Regions from separate parts of the Homo sapiens genome. Here regions 1 and 2 are each linked to region 3. Evidence: fine-mapped expression QTL. A gene starts in region 3. Each other region holds a variant in brackets. All regions are shown on one strand. Distances are between the middles of the regions.

Region 1 (8,182 bases), 310 kb before region 3:
GGAGTGGATCTCTGGTCCACATCTCCCAATGCTGCTTAGCCCAGGAAATGAAGACAGCTGACAACACAGAGGAACATTAACGAAAAGAACAAACCCCAAACTTGAAATGCATAACTGGGACTGCTGGAATGGGCCAAGGCATACCACGGCGGGTCACTGTCACCAGGAGGGCGCCTGTGTTTTAGAAGGGAGTGGCCAACACCGTCTGGCCACCCTGGAAGGAGCCAACGTGACAGCTAAGAACACTAGACAAGCATCCTAGCCTTCTCACCCATCGATCTCAGTGTGATCTTGCCACAGAGCCACTGGCAAGCCATTCGGCTGCCAGCCTGCAGAGGTGGACTGCTGTGGGAAAAGCTTCAGTGGAACAAACTGGCCTAGAATCTGGTGCCAGAGAATAGTTGGCTCATAAATCTTTTATCCCAAAGCACCCCAATGTGCACCGAGCATCTCGCCATTTGGTAGTTCCACAGTGACTGCTCTTCTATTTTACGAAGCCACTTTTCGTACCATTGAAATGTGACTCCGCATCTTAAGAAACAGGCCAGGAGAGGCCAGGTCGGCCACGAACACGGTCTTCCATCTTCCAAGGAGGAGGCTCGTTCCAAAGGTATGTCAAACGTCATGACATCCCACGAAGGAGACCTGGGGTGGTCTGGGTCTTGATCAAGTTCAACAGTGTCTCCAGTACACACCAGCTCCTGCTGCCTCAGGGAAGGGCTGTGTGGGAGAACGTCTTAATGCTCACATCAATTCCATGATGTGCCTCAGTGGTTCATATGACTTCAAGCAGTGTGAGCTGCTGGCAGAAGGAGGTTGCATGGAAAATGCCACAACTCAGCTTAAGATTATTTGGAACACACAGAGAAAAATCAAGAGGCAGAGAAATCAGCATGAAGTTAGGCTAGAACTGTGGATAGATGATGCCTTGGTATAGTCAAGGTGGGTGGGTTGGTCCAGTAAAGTGACTGCACCATCACACAAGCCAAGTTTTCTCTTTTATTGAGGTGTTTCTGAAGCATTTGCTATGATGGGCACTACACTGTTAGTGTTTTCTACTTAAAAGCTACCTACATAAAACAAAAACAAAATGACATCAGTAACTCGGACAGTTTAAACAAAACCCTTATAACCAGCTGAATGATCTGTAGAAATCCAGTTGTGGAAACCGGTAGGTATGTGCACGAGAGGAGAGGCCGTTATTCCAAGGGGTCACCTACAGTGTGGAAGAACAAAACCCTGATCCAACAGTATTTCTCAATGACCTTAAGATCCCCGGGGTCCTGGGAGAGATGGGTCGCGTTCCAGCAGGAGGCTCCTGAGCGCCTTCACTTAGGCTGGAATTGCCGAGGAGCCATCCACGCTTAGGCAAAGCTGCCCGCCACACTTCCCAGCGAAATCATCAGTGCCTGTAAGAGCAGCTGCTGGAAGAGGGGAGCGAGCCGTCTGTCCTGTGAGCAGCAGGACCAGGGAGACGGAGGTACAGCCCTGGCGGGGGGGGCGTGACGCCACGAGCCTCGGCGCCGGCCACTGGGCTTTCCAGCCGGAAGGTTTGGTACATCTCTGTCTACCCCTAGGGAAGGAGGTGAGGGAGAAGTTGAGAGGGCAGCCTGGAGGGGGAGGGGACTCTGCTCCTGCGTGTGTTCTATCAGGGACTGGCTGTGAGGTCAGGAGCCTCTGCATTCTGGCGCACAGGCTGGGTGACTCTTGCTCTCCAGCTGCTGCTGCAGCTGCACCTTTGTGCTCAATGAATGCAGCAGCCATGGCCGCACGGTCCTGCCTCAGCGCGAGCCTCCTGCAGGGATGGAGCAGCAGCAAGGGGAGCAAACCCAATGCCCCACGCCTTTACCCTGGGGATTCGCACAGAGATGGTGCTGCCTGGACACCTTCCTCTCCTCAGAACCTGAGGAACCACTGCTCTCTTAAGGACGAAATGTGTTGGTCATTCCATCTGCACAGAAGCAGTTTGTTCCAAAGACAACCAGCCAGGGACAGCCTGGTGGCTCCCCCAGGTGTGCTCTGGTGCCCTCGTTGGCCTCACAGGGCCACCTGGCTAGGAGGAGGAGAAATCTAACACCTTGGTGGAAACCAAGATAGAAAACAAAACAAAAAAAGCAACACAAAACAGGACATCTCAGAAAAAGGCAAGCTGTCTGAAATGAGCAGAGAGGTGAGTTAGTGTTGCTTTGACCCCGGAATACAGCCTGGCTTCCCCCTGCATCACCTGGGTGTGGCGCCTGTGGCGTGGATGAGGTTACCAGTATCAACGGCCTATTGTCAGGTGCTGAGAAAGGTGAGATGTATTCTTTTGTCTATATACACATATAAAAAATAAGAGTGAGGTAGATAAATGTTTGGGGGAAAAAAAACCCAAAAAATCAAGAACTGTCCCATCACTCTCACACACACACACCCCACACATACACACACACACACCCTTTCCTTGAAATTTAAATTCATAATGGGGCTTTTCTACAGTGATTGAAACTGGTAATTTATCACAAAATAAATTAAAAGAAAACTCCTACATATAATACCTTTTTTTTTTTTTTAAAGGGAACACGCTATGGGATAGAGACTAGAGAAAGCAGTGGGACAAACTGCTGACCAGCAAAAAAGCCGTATAAACTTTCTTTTCTGTGTTGAATCTTCAGTCACAACTAGCAATCACCGTATCCCAGCTTTGTTCTTACTCCTAAACATTTCTATCCCAGAAGCAACTCTTGTGCTGTCATCTCTCTGGTGAGAAGTGCTAAAAATGAAACAAGACAAGACCCCTGGGCCCCAAGGACCTGGATTCCTGGCCGAGGGAAAGTGGGCCAGCACCACAGCCCTGGTCCCCCAGCAAGAAGCAAAGGGGCTCTTGGGCCACCGTGGCGTCTGTGCTGCCTCCACCTAGCACTCCAGCGGGCACAGCCCTGAGGGTGCCGCCCTGGGCCAGCCTGGATCCCGGGGTCCCACTCAACGCCAGTGCGAAGGAGTTCCCTTGGGATGTTCTGGTTCCAAAGACAGGTCAGTCGGTCCGGTGAGGGGGGTGGCGAGGGCCACAACAGGCCCTGCCGGACCACGCTCTGCTGCTCCCTTGGACTCAGCAGCTGTTTTTCGTGGGATGGAAGGATTAAATAGCCATTAAGAAAAATAGTAATCCAAATGCCTAGTGTCTGCGGTTAACACTGCTGTTGTACCCAAGAATTAAAAAAATATATATATATGTGTGTCACAACCTAAGCAAAGGCAAGGGAAAGAGAGGGTGAGGCTTCTCAACCACGGTGAGTGGAAACACTGAACAAAGACGTGTGAAATATTTAACCTTTGTTTTTCTGACCTGAGTTTGTATCATGTCTTGCACTGTAACAGGCTCCAATGCTGTGAGGGCAGGCTGGGGAGAGGAGCGCGGCCCTCTCAGGATGGGTGCCCGGCCTGCTTTCTGCCTCGTGCCCAGAGAGCCTACGGGTTAGAAAACAACTAAAGGGGCAGGTGGGAGCAGGGATGGGGGATGTATTTATAAAAAGGCATCCAACAGTTCATGGCAAATTATGTGATAGAAGTATCCATTACCGGGAAAAGAGGAAGAAAGTCACGCACTCTAGTACAAAGCATAAGAAGTTTCTTGGAGTGAGCAGAAAGGGGAGAGGGTGGACCTGAAGGTTTTCATAGATTAAATCCACAAAGATCAAGAACAAAAAAAATAGCAGCTTTTTTTTTTCTGTACAGACGTATAGATGAATATCTGAACCGTAAAAAAGTTATAAAAGTGACATTAAAGACGATGTGTATGCAAATGTTTCATGGTCTAACATAGAACTGTAAGACCCATGAAGAAGTCCTAGGAACAGAGAAAATGTCAACAAAGCTTAGAATGCTTGAATCCATTGACTGCTTTTCTTCTTACTGCTGTTGTGGTGTTTGAATTTCTTTCCTTGCAAACCTGCATCAACAGTGGGGCTGAGTCCCTGGAAACCCCTTCCCATCTGTGTCCTTGGGGGCGGGCGGGGGAGCTGGGGCTGGGAGAGAAGCAGGCATGGGGCCCCTTGACTCCAAGCCTGTCCGCCAGGCTGCTTCGGGGCCCATGGCCACCAGATTCTTGGGGGTTGGGCAGGGGGCTGGGGAGGCAGGGCAGGGAAGCCGGTTCAGCTTCTCCCCACCTTCACTGAGAGAAAGACCTATTGTGTCCAGTTCCCCCAAATAATAATCTAGTCAGAAGCAATGAGACCTGTGTGCCTGTGGCCTTGAGCAGCACAGCAGGGGCAGTCGGATGGACGGAGTGTGTCGCCAGCGTGTCTCTCAAATGGAGCAACCAGCTGCCATGCTCACCCATGCCTCCGGACACGAGGAATCAGCGCCGGGCCGATGAGGGAGAAAGTTCAGGATTTTGGCAAAATTAGGCAGCGTTAAAATGGTAACAGCCTTGGATGAACGATGGCCCTTTGTAAATTTCATGTCCCTAGAAAGGTGAAAGATAAAGGTAAAAATTTCCATCTCCACGTGTTTTTTTGTAATGACCCACGGTGTCAGGCGGGTGTGTACAGTGGTTGGATGGGGCCAC[AGG/G]GACAGCCACTTCCTCAAACTGATAAAAAGGGCTTCCCAGCTGGACTTGTGGCAATTATTTTTCCGTTATGAAGCAGAGAGGAGAGAGAAAGGGAGAACAGGGAAGGACAGGGACAGAGTGAGGAGACTGGTTCTCAAGTGCTCTGTTGCTATTAAGTGTTGTCATTAAGGTTCTTAAAGGCCCATGTCAGTTAAGGGTTTGGGCAGGGAATAAAAAGCTGCTTGCATATTGAAAAAAGGAACATCCCAAATGTGTTTTACTGCAGAGAAGCTGTCTCCCGCGGGCAGCAAGGGCAGTTCTGAAGATCCACTGAGGTACAGGAGGCTTGTGAATGGATTGTTAAAACTCTCTCTCCCCCCCCACCCCGCTGCGCGTGCGCACACGTTACTGTTTGCACAGATTCAGGATCCAAGGATCAGCAGGTCGAAGACTGGGGCAGCGGCAAGGCCCGCTCGTTCTTGCGGCCCCCGTTCATGTGGGCGTAAGGCTGTCTCTCGTCGAAGCTGGCGCGGAGGACCAGCACCCCAGGGCCGGGGCCGTTCTCGGCCTTGTGTCCTGAGTGTCTGTCGGGCAGTGGCAGGGAGGACGAGGAGGCCGAGGGGTCCAGGGGGACGCTCTCCATGTTCTCTGGCTCCAGGTCCAGCTCCTCCGGCTCGGGCAGCTTGTTCTCCTCGCTGTAGTAGAAGGAGACCTCCCGGAAGCCAGGCTCCATCTCCTCTTTGATGCTGCTGATGATCTCCAGGAAGGAAGGCCTCATCTTGGGGTTATACTGCCAGCACATGCGCATCAGTTCAAACCTGCAGCCAAGACACACGGGAGGGGGTCCAAACCGGGAGGGCGCACATGGCCAGGAGGCTTCATGGGCCGCCTGCAGTGGTTTCCCGCATACAAGCGTACGGCGGGAGCACTGAACACAGCCCTGCTGCCCCTCTCCATCCCTGGCTTTCTGCCTGGATGGCCAAGTGGCCTTCAGAGTCTCCTGTTTTACCTCGTACGGTTCCATTCTCTTCCCCCAGAACCCAGAACCACCACGGTACAAAACCCAAACTCTCCTTTCCCAAGAAGGACTAATCCAGGTCCACACTGTCCATCGTGACAGCTGTTATCTATGGTGGCAGTGCTAAGAAACAAAAATAACCAGTTTTCTATCTGAGGCGTCTCATGCAGGCACTGCTGAAACATCCTTTCCAGAATTAGCAGGAAACCCCTGGTTTCTCACCAGGAAGGCTGATGAGTGACCGCAGCTTCCCCAACAGTGCTCTCTCTCCGGTTCCCACCTGTGCTATTTCTAAGCTTCCTCCTGGTGCAGGGCTACCCCTGGCAGACAACCAAAGGAAGAAGGCACTGTGAGGCCAGGCTTGCAACACGAAGAAATGCACACTCCGAGTCTGCTGTCTCCATCTAGCACGTGCTCGCTCCAGCCCTGCACAAGCAAGCCCCAGCCGATGAGCCAGGCTGTTCTGGACCAAACGAGAGGCCCCGTGTAGACCTGAAGCCAGATTCCAACAAGCCAGCAAGGAGAGCCCTGGGCACGAGTCCCCTCCACACGCAAGGGACAGGCAGAACAGGATGACGCTTGTGCTGTGTGTCGGTCGCATCGGCTGGGCTCCGACAGCACCTGGGCTGCAAATACCTGTGAGGCCCTCAGAGTCACATGGAGCAAAGGGAGTCCTGCCGGCTGTGGCCGGGGCTCCCCAAGAAAACAGCCGGCCACACGTGGACAAGGAAAGCCGGCTGCCCTGACCCAGGAAAGGCCCGGGCTTTGACAAGCTTCCAGAATGCAGAGACCCAGCTAAACAGACTTTTGGGGCAAAAAGCAGCTGGCTACCATCCAGGGCTGGCCATAGTTCTGAGGAGTGACCGCCAACAGCCCTCTCTTACATGAGCGTGAAACCAAAGTGCCTTCCTTTCCACGTCTGTTCTCACCAGGAAGTTATCCTCTTTATTTTAAAATTCTGGCTAAAGAGATGCTTTTCCATAAAAGTGGCCACACAGAACTCTCCACATCTAGGAAACTCAAAGCACACCCAGTGGCATCTAGCCTCCTGTCAGGGTGGCTGCTTGACCACAGACTACCTGCCCGTGTCTGGCCTTCAGGGAACATTCCAAGGGGAGGCCCCTGATGTAAGAGAAGCCACTGGGCCTGGAAGCTGGCCTGCCAAGAGAAGGGCTCCTATGGCCACCTGGCAGCTTCCTTCAGGTGGAGAAGGTGCAACCTTGAGGGAGGGTGGGCCTGGGTGTGAGGGAGAGCCATCCAGAATTCACTAGAATTCAGCGTTCTAGAGCCCGGGGGCCTGCGTCTCCACAGGGCCTAACCCGGGGCTGCCCGCCTCTACATCAGCTGCACTGGCATGGGGCCACGCTCCCTCATTTCCATGTGGGCTGCAGCTGCTTTCCAGCTACAACTACCAGCTGAGGACATTAGGACAGAGACTGTGGCCTGCAAGTCTAAAAATGTTTATTTACCACGTCGCCCTTTAAAAGAAGGAAGGGTGCAGGTTCCTGTTCTGGGGAGAAAAGAATTAGACAAAATATGAAGGCCCCCACAGTATGCTTCTTAGATTTGGAGAGTTCCATGTGGCCACTTTTATGGAAAAGTATCTCTGTAGCCAGAATTTTAAAAGTCTACCCCACGGTAGAATGCCATGTGCACGCTAGGTGCCAGGCAGCGAGGCAGTTATGTGTGTGAACTGCTGAAGTCCTCACGAGTTTGTGAAGCAGGTGCTACTGACTATAATATACCCCCATGTTACAGATGAGGGAACAGAAGCACTAAGATACTAAATAATTTGTCCAAGATTACAAAATTCATGAGGGTGGAGCTGGGATGGAGTTCTCTGCGCAACAGAATGACTACACTTTGATCACCAACGATCCTGGAAAAAGGAATTTTTCTCAACCTAAATAAGAGTAACCCTGGGGCCACCAGGAGACCCTCCCTCACCTAACTGTCCAAGGAACAGTCACAGATGTCACAGGGATGTGGTTTGCATTGATAAAAGCTGGCAGCTTGATGACAAATAAGCCTGCCTTTCCAAACTCCCCATCACTTCCTAAGAAAAATGATTGGGGTTAAAAAAATTAAAATAGGCCATAACGACATGAAATGCCTGGGCTGTGAATTCCTCTCCAGCTGACTTACCCCTGGGCAGAAGCGTAACTGGGCCAAGAGCATGAGATGTGCTTGGCTCTGTGCCCTGTGGCCAGGGACCGAGGAGGTGCCACAGGAGAGCAGCGAGGCAGTGACATCAGCACAAACAAGCCATGTGACGCCTCTTTTAAACCATTCCAGAGTAACAACCCTTCCAGTGCTGCCCATGAAAGGAAGTCTTTTTTGCTCTGTGGGATTCAAGACCTTGTTTACTATTTCCACACACACAAAAAATCTCCATTAGACTCTAGAAGGATGTGTGAGCTGATAAAACTCATCTTTTAAAAAGCACAATTTTTTTTTTTTTTTTAACCACAGGTCAGTTCTGGGGAGGCTGGCGCCATCCTTCTCGAATGCTCTCCCCTTTGGGGGACACATACCCAGCCCTTCTCCTGGAACAGGGACAAGACTCAAATGGAATTCCTGCCCTGCTGGGAAGCAGCTTCCTGGGGGCCAGCTGTGACCCCCCCCGGAGGCTGGGT
Region 2 (8,182 bases), 100 kb after region 3:
CCGCAAGCTGAGGGAGCCGGCTCTGACCTTGGCCAGCCCAGAAAGGGGCTCCCACAGTGCAGCGGCGGGCTGAAGGGCTCCTCAAGCGTGGCCAGAGTGGGCACCAAGGCCGAGGAGGCGCCGAGAGCGAGCAAGGGCTGTGAGGGCTGCCAGCACGCTGTCACCTCTCACTTCTAAACTGCCAGAGAATCCCTGAGAGGAGGCTGGTCTTCCTGACATTCTGTTCACACTATTAATTTGTTTTGCAAACCTTTTTAATGGAAGGAGAATTATATAAACCACCACCCTGCTCCTGTGTATACTATTCCACAGCATCAGCATCACTTGATAACTTGTAGAAATGCACCTTCCTCGCTGGGTGTGGTGGCTCATGTCTATAATGAGGGAGGCCGAGGCAGGAGGATGGCTTGAGCCCAGGAGGTGGAGGCTGCAGTGAGCCATGACTCCACCACTGGACTCCAGCCTGGGCGACAGAAGGAGACCCTGCCTCTAAAAAGAAAGAAAGAAATACACATTTCTGGGGCCCAATCTAGAGCGATCGAACATAATTCTGGGCGTCGGGCTCAGCGCTCTGAGTTTTGACAACCCCCCTACGCCCAGCTCATTTGAGAATGCCGGTCTGAGATGACTGATTCCCAGCTTGGAACATTTGAGTTACTGAGGTGATTGATTCTAAGAGTCAGCTGGAGCCAGGACTAGCAGACTGGGAATACATTCGTTTAACAATGGAATACCATTTTCAAATCATCATGCATTTCTTTTCTGGGTGCCATCTCCTGTGCAGGGGAGGACTGGAAAGACAGGGAAATTCTGGTAGCCTTGGGAAGGCAGAAGGGTGGGGCTTGGCTGGCCAGGGGACGGGCGCGGAGGGGGAGGGAAGAAGAGGAGGAAGCCGCGGGGCCTCACAACCCATCTGGTTGGAAACGTCCTGCAGTGCCGCCCGAGCCGCAGGAACCGGAGCCAATTACAAGTTTATATAATAGAGTCAGTCTCCCCGGGCCTCCCCTCTCCGCCCCACCCCTGCCGGCTTTGGGGATGGGGGAGGAAACGCTTTCCGTGAAATACAGGCTGGATCTAGGACGGAGGATGCCTTTTCTGGATTGACAACTAGGGGCCAGTCCTGAGTGTGAGAAACTCCTGGGGTCCTGTTTTGGGATCCGGACACCTCGGGCGCCGCGCAGGCCTCCTTGTGCCTCGGGAGCGGCCCCGCCTACGGAACGGGACCTGGAAGGGAGGTGTCCGGGTCGAGCGTTCGCGCTGCTCCCCGCCGCACGGTGTGAGCTCGCCGGGTTTATGTAACGCCTGCCCTTCGCGGAGGACCGTGTCATGTCCGAATCGCGGAGGACGGAGGAGGCGGGGGCCTGGGCCGCGACGCCCGCCCACGTGACCGTCAGATGACTGGGGTCTAAGTTTGCACGAGCTCCTTTACCGTAACGCTGAAGGCTCCTCATCAACATCGGCTCTTAGTCATCCCCGAGTGACATTTGATATGAGCAACAGCTCAGGACGGGGAAATGGCAACGCGGATGCTGATGGAGACGAGGAACGGCTGCTGCGACCGCCTCTGATTTGGGCTGGAACGGGAGTTTATGCGGAGTCAAGGAAACCCACCGCGAAGGGTGCCAGGGAAGACCAGGGCACTTTTCTAGACAAAGAATCTTAGATTCTTTGGGGCTAGATGCAGAGAGTCCGGGAGAAACTGTTCACCGGGTGCCAGGCAGGCGGCTGACCACGCAAGCCACGCTTCAGATTTGTGGGTTGGTTTTAGAAGTCACATGAGGTCTGCCTGGACGCCCCTCCCGATCACGTCAATTATCTGTCACAACTTCTCTGTGCGCCCCAGGGACCAGCCCCATGCCCCCAGCGGGGGAGTTGGTTACAGCTGCAGAATCCCGGCCCCACCCCGCCTCCAGAGCACGAGCCTGCGCTAGAAGGATATCACCAGGGGATGGGGGGGAATGCGAGGGGGGCGGGGAGGTGGTCACGGATGCAGAGGCTGTCCTGGCTGCTGAGGCAAAAAGCCCGTCCCAAGCCCTGCATGGGCTCCTACTGCACTTCAGGATTTGGGGGAATGCAGAATCGTGGTCTTTGAGTTTTCATTAATTCAATAAAGATTTCTCAAAAGCCTAAATTCTAGACCCAAGACAGTGGGAATTAAACAGGGCTGAATATGACGCTATTGGCTATACCAGGACCACGCCTGAGCATTGCATGCACGCTCCAGCTATGCATAACTTATTTATTTTAAAAGAAGGAAGGAAGAGAGGGAGGGAAACAAGGTGTTTCTTAAGAGTAGAGGAGGGGAGAGGCAACTTGTTGCTTTCACTGGCAACAGTTAACTCCATAAGCAATTTCCTCACTTAAAAGAAAAACAAATGAAGTAGAGTGGTAGGCTTTTGAAAGGAGGAGCAGAGAGCTCCGGTGAGTGGAAACCTAGCTTTTATTCACCTTAGGGCCTTGTTAAAACACATTTGCCTTGAGATAAAAGGGTTTCTTTTGGGACGATCCCAAAATGACTTTGCTTGATTCAATTAAGCAAGACCTAACGAAAGAGAATTCCAGCTTAAGATACGCATCATCTCACCAGGTGAGTTGTAAATACATTCTGACCAGGTTTCAGAGGCAAGCTCTTGAAAATTTAATCTATTTAAAAACTGCATATCCTTGCCACAAATTGCTTTGAAGAAGATCGCTGAGCTGATTGCATGCTGAGATAATTATTCTGTATCACCACTTAGGGAACAAGATTTTTTGATAAATACTACAGTGTCAGTCTTTGTTAATGACTTGGGAGGGGAAGGAAAGGATTCGATATAGCTGAGGCTGGTTTTATTTTCTTGCCTCTTTCCCATGAACGCAGGCTGTGGGAAGCAGGTAGAGTCTTGGTTTATGAACTCTGAACGCTATTGAGTAACCTATTCACCTGTCAAATCCCTAATCCCCGCATGAAGGTGTACAGATGGTATTGGAGTAGAACACGAAACTGAGAGGTGAAGCCAGCCGGACTTCTGGGTCGGGTGGCAACTTGGAGAACTTTTATATCTTACAAGAGGATTGTAAAACGCACCAATGGGCGCTCTGTAGCTAGCTAGAGGTTTGTAAAATGCACCGATCAGTGCTCTGTAAAAATGCACCAATAGGCGCTCTGTAGCTAGAGGTTTGTAAAATGGACCAATCAGCACTCTGTAAAATGGACCAATCAGCAGGACATGGGCGGGGACAGATAAGGGAATAAAAGCTGGCTACCCCCCAGCCAGCAGAGGCAACCTGCTTGGGTCCCGTTGCATGTTGTGGGATATCTGTTCTTTTGCTCTTCACATTAAGTCTTGCGGCTGCTCACTGTTTGGGTCTGTGCCATCTGTAAGGGCTGTGACACTCACTGTGAAGGTCTGCGGTTCCATTCTTGAAGGCAGCGAGACCAGGAACCCACCAGAAGGAACAAACCCCAGACACAAAACCAGTCTCCACCTGCGCAGGGCCCTGCCTGTGCCTTACCTGCTTCCCCTCCTGGAGACTCCCACCTGTGAATGGATAGATGGTAGTGTGTTGCTGGGTGCTGATGGGGGAAAGCCCTAGCCTGTACCCCCGTTATGGATAATATGGAAGTCAGGGTTCTCAGGTGCTGGTGAGCCAGGCCTCCCCACATCCTACGTATGACAGCACAGGCTCATTTCTCAGTGCTCTGCCCCACTGAGCCTGGATGTGACCTCAGAGGAGTCCTTAGCACTGTGATTAATCTCTTCATGCTTTTCTTCCTTTTTTTTTTAGACAGGGTCTCTCTCTGTCATCCAGGCTGGAGTACAGTGGCACCACTGTAGCTCACTGCAACCTCCGCCTCCTGAGGTCAAGTGATTCTCCCACCTCAGCCTCCCTAGTAGCTGGACTACAGGCGTACACCATCACACCCAGCTAATTTGTGTATTTTTTGGTAGAGACAGGGTTTCGCCACGTTGCCCAGGCTGATATCCCAACTCCTGGCATCAAGAGATCTGCCTGCCTCAGCCTCCCAAATTGCTGGGATTACAGGCATGAACCACTGTGCCTGGCCTCATTCTTTCAATAACTTAATAAATACTTATTAGGAATCTATTCTATACAAGTCGCTGATAACATAGAAGAAAAGAGAAAGAAAGAAATATAGATGGATGAATGGTGCATAGAAATAATACAAAGCACTAGGACAATGGTTAGTGGTTGGGAGGAGTAACTTTAGATATTGTAGTCAAGGAAAGCCTCTCTGAGGAGGTAACATGAGGAAGAGTTATTTCAAAAGCCAGAGGGGAAAGCCAGGCCCAAACAAAACAACAAAACAGGCCGGGTG[C/T]GGTGGTTCACACCTATAATCCCAGCACTTTGGGACGCCCAGGTGGGCAGATCACAAGGTCAGGAGTTTCAGACCAGCCTGGCCAATAAGGTGAAACCCTGTCTCTACTAAAAATACAAAAATTAGCCAGGCATGGTGGCGTGTTCCTGTAGTCCCAGCTACTCAGGAGGCTGAGGCAGGAGAATCACTTGAACCCAGGAGGCAGAGGTTGCAGTGAGCCGAGATCATGCCACTGCACTCCAGCCTGGGTGACAGAGCAAGATTCCATCTCAAAAACAAAAACAACCAAAACAACAACAACAACAACAAAAACTGTGTGTGCAAAGGCCCTGAGGCAGGAATGAACCTAACATGATCAAAAACCTGGCTCAGAACATGGACCCAGTGAACCACTTTGGACACTTGATGGGCATTTGATGGGTTGCCTCCGTGTGATCTCTAATTCTTGATGACTAGGCTGAAGTGGGAGCTGGACTCATAGGTGTGTAGACGGGGGTCTGTAGTCCCATGTGGCTATTCATTCTCACCGAGGCAGCATTTCTGGTGAAGTTATAGCTGGATGGTATTTCATGGTCAACTTTAGTTTTAATGGGAGGTATGTGAGGAAGCAATATAGTATAATGGCTAGAATCAGAAGATCTTGATTGAGATCATAGCTCTTCTTACTGGTTTTCTGACCATGGACAAATAGTTTACATACCTTATACCTCAGTTTTCCCTTGGAAGTAATGATAAAACTATCTGTCTCACGGGGCAAAAAACAAATCACTGAATGGCTAAATCACCAAACAATTCACCAAACTTAGCAATTTACCAAAGCCTTGCATTAAACCAGTTTTTAGATATTTTAAATGAATATGAATATTCTTCAAAATATACGTACTTATTATGTATTTGATATACATTAAGAATATTTAGAAATGTAAAGCATGTTTGTAGCTCATTAATATATTCTTCATGAATATTACAGTTTAATAAAGGGAGTGTTAGAAAATAATCTCTATATGCTTAAATTATTTTTTAGCAATAATCATAACAAAATTAATAACAAAAATAGAAAATAAATGCAAACACTGGAAATTTCCTTATATTGAATCTTTACATAATCTTGTCAATAAAATGAATAAAAATAAGTTATCATGCAAAAAAAGGGAAAAAACTCAATCCAGCTATTCAATCAGTTTTATATTTACTAAAGATTAAACGTTGATATTTTGGTTACAGTCTCATGTAATATTATTTTATGTAAGTGTTCAGTAACTAGTAAGTGAATTTTAATAAAACCAAATTGTGTAAAAGGTAGAGTTTAGTCAATTACTAATGTAACAATTTTTTAAAATTTGTCCTTTAGTTTTGTTTTGTTTTGTTTTGTTTTGTTTTGAGACAGAGTCTCGCTCTGTTGCCCAGGCTGGAGTGCAGTGGCACTATCTCTGCTCACTGCAAGCTTTGCCTCCCAGGTTCACACCATTCTACTGCCTCAGCCTCCTGAGTAGCTGGGATTACAGGCGCCCACCACCACATCCGGCTAATTTTTTGTATTTCTTAATAGAGATGGGGTTTCACTGTGTTAGCCAGGGTGGTCGCAATCTCCTGACCTCATGATCCGCCTGCCTTGGCCTCCCAAAGTGCTGGGATTACAGGAGTGAGCCACTGTGCCCGGCCTTGTCCTTTAGTTTAAAACCAACAACAATTAGAAGAAAAGAATAAACTTAAGTGTCAAATTTAGTCAAATATTTTATGCATGGACTAAAATTTGCATTCATCAAACAAAAATATTACACCTTGTACTTCTCACTGTTTCACTGTTTCAAATTTTAAAACACAAATCAAAACTCACACAGTTACATAGAGTGAGAGAATTGAGCTACATCAAATTCTGTTTTCTTTCTCCATTATCAGTGTGCTATCAGTGTTTACTTTGATTCTACACTTTAAAGGCAGCAGGCATAAATAGTATCACAGGGCGGGAAATGCTAGCTGAGCCACTCCACATTGTTATAGTAACAAACATCTCAAAAACAAACAAACAAACCCTATTGCTTGGGTTCATCTGTGGAGGACTGGCTGTAATTAGGAATTTTCTGAATTAAGTTACATGTAGAATGATAATGCTTATTAAAGGATAAGTAATTAGAATGTGTTAATTTGAAGCTTACATGCATATCACTCAAACTCAACAGTAGTCCCTGCAATTGTTTAGAACTTAAACCAAAGAATATTTGAGGAGGGGAGGTGACTTTTATCACTGATGTTATTTAGAACTGCCAGGGCATGGCATGGTAAAGAGAAGATCAATTTTTGGTTTGTTTTATTCTTGTTTTTAAATTATTGCCAGTGTACCCCTCCTACCATGCTCTCAGTATCCTACTGCATTTAGTAACCAGTAACACCATTACTCTCTATAATTGTGGTATCTGCTGTAATGGATGTCACAGGGTCCTCTGAGGTAGAGGGTCCAGGTGCACCTAGGAGGACTTCCTTGAAGAAGGGATTTTTTTTTTTTTTTTTTTTAAACAGGGCTCTGTCACCTAGGCTGGAGTGCAGTGGTGCAATCATAGCTCTCTGCAGCCTCAAACTCCTGGGCTCAGGTGATCCTCCCACTTCAGCCTCCTGAGTAGCTGGGACTATAGGTGCATGCCACTAATGCCCAGCTAATTTAATTTAATGGTTTTTTTTTTTGGTAGAGATGGGAGATCTTACTATGTTGCCCAGGCTGATCTTGAACTCCTGGCCTCAAGCAATCCTCCGACCACGGCCTCCTAAGTAGCTAAGACCACAGGTGTGAGCCATTGCATCCGGTTAAGAAGGGATTTTTAAAGAATGATTTAGTATTATTTACATACTATAAAATTCACCTCTTAAAGTTTTGCAGTTCACAGAGTTTTATAACCATCAGTACTATCTAATTTCAGAACATTTTTATCAACCCAGAAAGAAATTCTGTCCCGCTGAGCAGTCATTTTCCAGGACCCCCACCCCAGGCCCTGGCAACCACAGGTGTGCTTTGTGTGAAGAGAGGCTCTTCAGCTGGGACCTGAGGTGTGGACAGAAGTCAACTTGTCAGGTAGTGAGGGAAGGGAGACAACAGCGTGAACAGTATCTAGCAGAGCAGAGGTGAAGGCAAGAAATCAACAGACCTGCGTGGCCAGGGCACAGAATATGAAGGTGAGTGGCTTGAGCATGCCGGGGAAGACCCAGCCCACGGGGACTTTGCTGGTTCTCCTAGTAGCAAGGGGGCCCTGAGGTCTGACGCAGAGCCTTCCCTGCGATACCGGCTCAGAAAACACGGCAGGAACTACCCTGTAAATACACCTTTCATAGTCTTTTAAAACATCATAAGGATTGCTTTATTTTATTTTTATTTTTAGATATTTATTTATTTATTTTTATTTTTGTTTTTTTTGAGACGGAATCTCTCTCTGTTGCCTAGGCTGGAGTGCAGTGGCGCGATCTCTGCTCACTGCAACCTCCACTTCCCGGGCTCCAGCAATTCTCAAGCAAGCCTCCTGAGTAGCTGGGACTACAGGGTGCACTCCACCACGCCTGACGAATTTTTGTATTTTTAATAGAGACGGGATTTCATCATGTTGGCCAGGCTGGTCTCGAATTCCTGCCCTCAAGTGATCCACTCGTCTCGGCCTCCCAAAGGGCTGGGATTACAGGCATGAGACACCGCGCCCGGCTGGATTGCTTTATTTTAAATATTTACAACATAACATCAGAAATAGGAGAGACATATACGTGTGCTCCCGCCGTTGTGGTGTAATCTTACTGTCTTGTAGAAATCTGGCTTGGACGTTTAGACTGCACAAATAGCCATGCTAAACCTGCAAATCAGCTGTAACCGATTTTCTCAGGAAT
Region 3 (8,152 bases):
ACAACAGCTGAAAGAACGCCCTCCCTGATAGGGCTCAGCAGCTTATTTCTATCAGAGTTAAGTGGTCTAGCACCTTCCCGGCTAAAAACTGAACGCCCGTTCACAGGCATAGCTTTTAATTCTCCACATTTCAGAGATGGAGGGAGGGGCAGGTACTGAGTCAGTCAAGACTTCAGCAAACCATAATCGAGATTTGGGGTGCCTTCTGACCACCCATCAGGTTTCCAGGAACTAACCACTGTAAAGGGATCCTGGGGGGAAGCTTTGGTATCATGGAGTAAAAACATACATTAAAACACCCCCTCCCTCCTGCCTGTGTTCTCAAAAATCGCCGTCTTGCACAAAGAATATCCTTCAAGAAGAACGCTCCAAAAGAAAAACAGCCTATTTTAAAATGCCCGACTCCTGCGTCGGCGAAGGCCATCCCTGCTGTTTTGAATTTCAGAACATTAAAAACACAAAACTAGAGAAGCTATACAGTTCAACTGCATAACATAACAAAATGGATTATTTCTCCCGTGTCTTCTAAACCGTACTTATCTTTTAAAGATAAAAACCCTCCTTTGTCCCCCCAGCCACCACCTAAACGACTTAGTAAAGGGAGCCGGAAGGCTTTCGCCCAATCGAGTCCGCTGAAAGTTTAGAAAACAAAGAGCAGGAGAGCCCAGATCTGTGGAAGGTCCGGCCCCAGTCCGCGTCCCACTCGGCAGTAAACACGCGAACCACGATCTGCTCTCGTTCCGTCGCGGACTCATTTCTTACCAGACGTTTAAGGATTTGTTTATAGAAACAGCCTTTCTGAATTGCCCCGGTGATGGGGCCATACAACCTCCGCTGCCTCCTCCTTCCCCGCCTCACTCGTGAAGGCTCAGTCGTGATTTTTTCAAAGTTAATCGGCACCACCTGCATACCCTCGGCAACCATTACTCACCAACACGCCCTCACCGTTCCCAGTCCCAGTTCTGCGACATTTAAACTTTTAATCGTGTTCAAATTACCCTACCATCTTGAATGTACCAGTAAGCCACACTTTCAACTTTTTCAGAAGAATAAAACCCCCACCTCCTCCGGCCGTAGACACCGGGGGGAGTTCTCGCTCCCCGCATCCCCGCGCTTCCCTACTAACCCCCACCCGACACCACCAAAACAAAAGCTATCAGATTGCAAAAGACAGCGAATGTGGAGCGACACTGCTTATTAACTACGTACAAAGGAAGTGCGGGGCGGCAGAAGAGAGGGCGACACGACGCCGACCACAACAAAACCAAGGCCAGGGCTCCGCGCTCGCAAAACACAACACCCTCCCCGCGCCGCCGCAGACCCTGGCGCTGAAACCACAGCGTACGACACCTCTCGCCAGGGACGGGCGTCTAGGTGTCCCCGTGAGGCGGCGACTACACCCCGCGCTGCGAGCACGTGTGTCGGAATGCACGTCGGCTCCGACCACACACCCACCAACGCACACTCGGATGCGGCCCTAGTACCCCTCCATCCCCCGGCCCGGGAGAAACTGGGAGACCATCCCAGAGCCCTCTGAACTGGGGACCCAGTGGCGCTCCCCGGAAGAGACAAGCTGAGGAAGACTCCCGGCCTCGCACTTCCCGGGGGGCTGCCCAGAGAGCGCTTCCCCTCACCCCACCGCCCAGCCCCGGGACGCCGGGGGCAGGTAACCCAACGAGGAGCGGGCCAAAGTGACGGGCAAGGCCAGGAACCCGAGGAGCCCGAGGGGCAAAAGCACGTTGGGCGACGGGAGGCAGCGACGGGCGCTTGGAGACGTGTCCTGGGGCTTCGGGGCCTCTCCGCAGGGCACCTCCCCCCTCGAGGGCAACTCGCACCCCGCGGGCCGGGCGGCTGCCCGCTCCCCACTGCCCGGTCAGCCCCAGCAGCGGAGACGCGGTGCGGCCCAGGGTGCTGTCGCTGCTGCCTGCGCGCCGCAGGGGATCAGCGCTGTGTGCGGAGAGGCTCTTGCGCATGGAAGGGGCGAGGTGCGGGTCGCGGGGCCCGGGAACCGCGGAGCCCGCCCCGGCACCAACTTCCCTACCGAGTCCTCGCGCCTAGCCGGGAAACACGGCTGGGCTGTCAGGACGGAGAAAGAGAAAAGCCCTTCCCGCGCGGGGATGCGCGGAGCCAGGGCCCGCGGGGCTCCAGACGAACGAGCCCGGGTCCCGGGTCCGCTGCAGCCTCCCTCCCGGCAGAGCCGCCCTGCGCCCCACCCCGCCGCTCCCGAGCCCGGGGGCCCGACAGCTGCGACGGTGGCAACTCGGGTTTCGCAAACAGGGCGCAGCCCCTCGGAGGAAAAGTTCCCGCAGTGGCCGCGGGCGGCGGGCACATACTCACTTTCTCCACTCGTCGGCCAGAGCGAGAGCGCGGCGGAGAGAAACAGGAGCCCCCACAGCGAGGTCGGGGACCCTCCTCCGGAGCCAGACTTCATTCCTTTTATTTGGGATGAAATTCCCCTTTCTCAAAAAAAAAAAAAAAAAAAAAAAAGAAAAGAAAAGAAAAAAAGGAAATGAAAGGAAACAAGTCTCAAACTCAGTCTTCGCTCCCCCTCCAAAAACAAGGGCGAAGGAAACAATACTCCGAAGGCGGCGCCGCCGGGGCCCTCCGGGTGCGCGGACGGGGCGGGCGGCGCGGGGCGGCCCCTCAGCGCCGGCAGCAGCGGCCCAGGGCTCGGCGGAGTCGGGAACCCGAGGCGCGCCGGGGCGGGCTGTCGGCGTCGTCGGCCTCCATTTTCAAACCCGGAGAGGCAGGAAGGGGGGAAAACTGCAAAGAAAGGGGGCAAAGCCCAAATCTGCCTAGGCGAGGAAAAACAAGCCCGGCCCTGGCCGCGCGGGAGGCGGCCGGACGCCCGAGCTTCCGCCGCGGGAGGGCGCGACGCAGTTCGCAAGATCGCCCCGAAGTCCGGGTCACAGGCGAGGCCGGCGAGGGGCAGAAACGCGGAGTCAAAATGAATGAGCGGCTCCCCCTCCTCCTCCTCCTCCTGGCTCCGCTCGCCGCCGCCTCCTCCCTCAGCGCCGCCGCCGCCGCGGCGAGCTCCTTCCCAAATCCAGGACACACACAAAGCGGCGGGCCGGCCGCGCCGCGCTCAGCACTCCCGCCGCGCCGCCCGGCTCTGCGCCGCCGCCCGCCCCGCGCCGGCCCCCGCCCGGCCCCCGCCCGCCGCCGCCTGCTCTGCGCGGGGGCTCCGGCTCGCTGAAGGTCACAGCCGAGGCGAGGCGCGCCGTGGAGCTGCCCCCGCGCGGGAGGGGCGTGGAGGGCGCGGGGGGATCCGGGGAGCGGGGCCGAGGGTCTGCGAGCGCCGGCCGTGGGCAGGCTCGCTGGCGGCGTCCCTCTCGCTCTCCCGCCTCTCTCGAGTTCGCCTGGTGCGCTCGCTCCTCCTCGGGTTTTTTCCCTTTTTTTTTCCGCTCAGCGGAGTTAATGCTGGTAAACAAGAGCCCCAGCCTCGCCGCGCCGCCGCCGCCGCTGCCACACACTGGGGGCTCGCGCGCGCGCGCGCGCCCTGGCCCGCGCACACGCGCCCGCTCGCACACTCGAGCGGCCACCGCCGCAGCAGCGGCGCGCCGAGGGCCCGGCCCAGGCCGGCGCGCGCAAAAAACCGGAGCCCGGTTCCCCAAGACGTGCGGAGCGGAGCCCGGGCGTGGGGCGCGAGACTGCGAGGCGCCGCCCCCATCTCCCGCCCCACCGCCTCCCGCGCGCACACAGAGACACGCGCGCGTGCCCACCCGCTCCCGCCCCCACCGCACTGCGCCGGCCACCCCGCACGCGCCCTCCCCTCCCGCCCGACTCCAAAAACAATGCCCCCGCCGCCGGTCCGGTCTCGGCGGGGCAGGGGTGGGTAGCCAGGGAAAGGCTAGGCAGGGGAGGGGTGGGCAGGAGAGGGGAGGGGTGGGCGGGGAGTGCGGGGCTGGGAGAGGTTCATTGAAAACAACAACAGCGCGGCTGGAAAGCGCGTTTCCCCGGTTCTTGAAAAGCTTCATTGTTTCTTGCAGCTGTTGCAAAATAAATAAATGCGTGCATGCGGCATTTTTTTCGCTGCGTACTGGAAAGCCCGAACGTGGCGGAAGGGGCGCACCTGGGAGAAAGGGGACCCCCCCCCCAGGCTACTACGCCGGGCACTTTCACGCCAGGCTGGGGTGCCCGCGGCGTTGCGACCGTGGAGCCCGGAGTTTGGGGGCTCAGGGGGAGCGGAGGGGGAAGGGCGCGGCCCGTGTGGCTCGGCCCAGAGTGGCTCGAGGAGAGAGGACCCCGCCGCCCCTCGCGGGCCCCGCGCCCCGGAAGGGGGGCCCAGACAGGCAGCGCCGCGTGCCCCGGGCGCGTCCCCGCGGCGGCCGCCAGAGGGCGCGGCGGGCGCTGGGGAGGGCAGCCCGCGGAGAGTCGCCTCCCTCCCTCCGGGGGAGGAAATGTGGGGGCCCGGGCTGGGGGCCGACTCGGCTGGGTCGCGCTGGCGTGGCCTCCCGGACCAGCCGCCCGCCCTGAGCGCTCTCCGCGGCCTCGCGCAGCTCAGGGCTCCACCACGTGGGCGGCTGCGGGGAGCGGCCGGGGCGCGTGCACGCTGCGGGTCTCCGAAGCTCGGGGGGCGTGTCCGGGTCCCGGGGCGCCGAGGAGGGGGTGGAGGCTGGGGCCGGGAAGCCTCCCTTGGCCGCGGTCCCGACCCGGGAACACGCCGCATGCACTCGGGATCAGCGGCTACTGCGGAAACCCACCCGCACCTGTCTCGGGTCCTCCCAGGCACGTTCCTCTTGCTTCGTTTGCTACGTAAGTGACTGGAAACCAGTACCGACCCTAAGTCTCCGCGGTTGTTTTCTTGAATGTGCAGGAGGAGAGGTTTCCCCAAAGCGAGACTCCCCTAGGACTGCCATCTAATGAATAAATGCTGCGGAGACCAGGTCCTCAAAGAGGGAAACAGCCCAGCAGTGGCAGGAGAGAGGAGTTTGAAATACGTGGACTTTTACAAACAGTGATTGGACCATGTGTCGCCCTTAATGTGGTCCGGTTTCATGACTCAGGCTAATTGATGCCAGTAATAAATTTTTTTAAGATAGCTAATAAAAGAGTTGTGAATTGTCGAGATAAGAAGTGGTTGTCTCAAACAATCGGGTAGGATGGTAGAAGGGACCTGATGTAAAGGAAGGTAGTAGGTTTCTTTTACTCTCTAATTCTAAAATACTTCTGCATTAGAACGTGTATCCATCGTTCGTAAATAATTTTTTAAGAGCTGAAAACAAGTCAAAAGCTATCATAACGGAAACTTAGCCCTTTTTTTCTAAAGTTGTTTCCTAGATCATTTTCCTCCTTGGAAATTTCTAGCTCAATTCAGAGTCAGTTGTATAGAAAGAAAATAAACCTTGTTTTACCTAAGAAAGTTATTCATATGATGGGATGGTTTTGTTTAACTGAAATTCAGCTTGATTTTTAAATAAAGAGTTTCAGTTTTGGATGTTCCTAGATTTAACAGTGAAATAAATTTATTAGAATCTTAAAATGTATTATTTAAAAATTAGGCACTACACATGAAGAATTAAAGTCCAGTCTACTAATTTTTAAATATTTCTTAAGTTCTCTGCATGAGGTTGGTCTTGATTCCTGCAGATCCACTCTGGAGTTAAATGCAAAGGAATATTGATATATAATTTCATTATACTTGATTTCAGAATTTTTAATACATACTTGTAAGACAAAAATTTAGAGCTGATTTTTAAAAGGCTAGTGCTAATATAAAATCTTCAAATACTACCCAATGTATTTTTAGTATTAGTAATAAATATGCCTGTTTATTTGTCCCCAAGAACATAAAGAGGTCTATAGAATTTTTAAATGTATATAGGTTGTTGTAGGGGTTGTAGGATTTGTTTTTGTGTGTTTTTTTTTTACTAAAATGATTTTTATTTGTGAATTTTTTAAATGTTTGTGTTTTCCTGAAGTAGTAGGAAATCAATCGTATTAAGTTATTTTAAACAGTGAAGTGGGAGATGTATCATTATATAGCTTAATATTTAGGGAAAAAAAAGGAACAAAAATTTAGGTTGTCTTTACGCTCTAACTTGACCACATGGACAAAGGAGGTGATTTGTATTTCTTCAATGATTATATTTTACATACACAAGTCAAACTTATTTTTTCAACCTTGAAATAAAATCATGTAGACAAAAATTAATTGGAGTCTTTGCTTTATACCCACATTGACAATGCACCAAACTTTTTATTTTATACCATTTTACTCAGGTATCTTATAGGTTCTCCCTCTTTTGGAGCAGAAACTGATTGCTTGTTTTCATTTTTTAAAAACGCCGTTTACTTGATAACAGTTTCATCTCAAATTATTCTGCTAAATGTACCAGACTCCCCAAAAAATGTAATGTATATCATATACATCAAGTGCAAACGTGAGAAACAGCACAACAATTGACAAGTATCAAGTAATACAGTATATTGTGATGTATTCGCAGAAAGGAATGTTAGCAGCAAAAGTGAATAAACTACAGCCCCACACAACATGGGCAGATCTTTGAAACACACTGAGTAAAAATATACAAATATCAAAAACGCACACAGCGTAACACCATTTTGATAAAGCTCTTAAAAAGCAAGGAAAACTTTAAAAGTTACAGAAAATTTTTTTTGCTTTAAATAATAAAATAATATTTTTCCTTTGTTTTGCTTTTGTTTTAGCAAAAGAATTAATGAAGGATGTGAATTCCTTTGGAGAGGATGAGAAGCCCATAGGCACATGGGTTTCCATTGTAATTTGGAAATGAGTTCACTCTTGGATTGAGTGACGGATTTACAAATTTCCATTTTATAAGTATGCTTAATAACTAACACATGTTCTACATATTTTTGTATGTATAAAACATTAAAGAAGATAAATAAAAATATGGGAGAGATCCATGAAAGAGATCATTCTGGTTTTCCAATGGGAGTCGTTCAGATTTCGAGCTGTCCGTATAAATAACTCAGAAGCATTAAAGATCTACTAAAATAACACAGTTAATCAAGGTCTGATCCTTAAGATATTTCAGAAGAATGTCCACACATCTAATATCGATGCAATTTAAGACAAAAATCAAAAGACAAAAAATTTAAAAGACCTCACTTCACAGGTAATAAGCTTCATTAAGAGTGCATTATGTCAACTGTTTGACAGTTTCTTATAAGGTAAAACATACAACTAACTTACGATCCAGCAAGTCTAGCCCTAGTTATTTACCCAAAAGAAATGAAAATTCCACAAAAATACTTCTATGGGAATGTCAATAGGTGCTTTGTTCATAATAGCAAAAACTAAAACAACCCAAATGTAAATCAAAAGGAGAATGGATAAACAAATCATGATATATCCATTCAATGCAATACTGCTTAGCAGTAAAAAGGAATGGACTACTAATCCATGCAAAAACATAAATGAGTCTCCAAAGCATAATGTATAAGCCAAAAGAGTACATACTGTATTAGCTCATTTATGTAAAGCTCAAAAACAGGCAAGATTGATCTAGAGCTAGAAATCAGAATCATGGCTGCCCTGGGTGGGTAGAGAGGGAAAGTTTCAAATGACTAGGGAGAGGCATAAAGAACTTTCTTGGGTGATGGCAATGCTCTATATCTTGATGGGGTGTTGGCTATGCTAGTATATGCATTTAGCAGAAACACATCAGACTGTACACTTAAGATGGGTGCACTTCATTCTGCATAATTGTATCTGAATGTTAAATTGTTAAGATTGTATTATAATTTAGATAGTTGCAGCTGTTCTAAAAAAAATGTTAGCACAATGCTTCCCGTTTTTACTATTAGGTGAGTTAGTAGAGATGCTAAACTCCAACATCCTTGCCCACAGCTGTCTACAGATGTGTATACTTTCAGTGTGTATCTGCCTAAGGTCTTTCCTTAGGGGCATTAGCTGTGGAAGGCATCACATGGTCTCCACAGAGCACCCCAAGGGCAGGAAAAATACAAGTGATGCTGTAGCTGATTCCTATCCCCACACAGCCACAAGCAACAAGAGTCTCAGTCTTGTTGAGGATCTGTTTATACTCAACTTGAGAAGATTTTCTATTTTAGCTCTGCATAGATAGCTGGCTCCCAAGGCATAAATGCTACATTTCTCCATGATGCTTTAAAAGCAACGTGGAGGTTTCAGAGAGCATTTGCGCAG

Evidence for each region.
Region 1: its variant is fine-mapped to the expression of IGF1R in whole blood (TOPMed, PIP above 0.99).
Region 2: its variant is fine-mapped to the expression of IGF1R in monocytes (TOPMed, PIP 0.94).

The regions. Positions count from the first base shown.
Region 1 is chr15:98,954,225-98,962,406 of GRCh38, reverse strand. IGF1R (insulin like growth factor 1 receptor) reads right to left here. Exons shown (of 21, transcript NM_000875.5): 21 at 1-5,346. The coding sequence ends at 4,965. Among named protein-coding and RNA genes, the nearest start is that of PGPEP1L, 49 kb to the left of the region's middle. The variant AGG/G (reference allele first, on the strand shown) is at 4,547.
Region 2 is chr15:98,541,560-98,549,741 of GRCh38, reverse strand. No RefSeq gene overlaps it. Among named protein-coding and RNA genes, the nearest start is that of IGF1R, 100 kb to the left of the region's middle. The variant C/T (reference allele first, on the strand shown) is at 4,322.
Region 3 is chr15:98,643,861-98,652,012 of GRCh38, reverse strand. It overlaps IGF1R (insulin like growth factor 1 receptor), which reads right to left and starts at 3,474. Exons shown (of 21, transcript NM_000875.5): 1 at 2,338-3,474. The coding sequence starts at 2,431. IRAIN (IGF1R antisense imprinted non-protein coding RNA) reads left to right here and starts at 1,226. Exons shown (of 1, transcript NR_126453.2): 1 at 1,226-6,150. RefSeq lists silencers at 3,450-3,719, 4,090-4,149, 4,210-4,679, 4,690-4,739 and an enhancer at 4,751-5,372.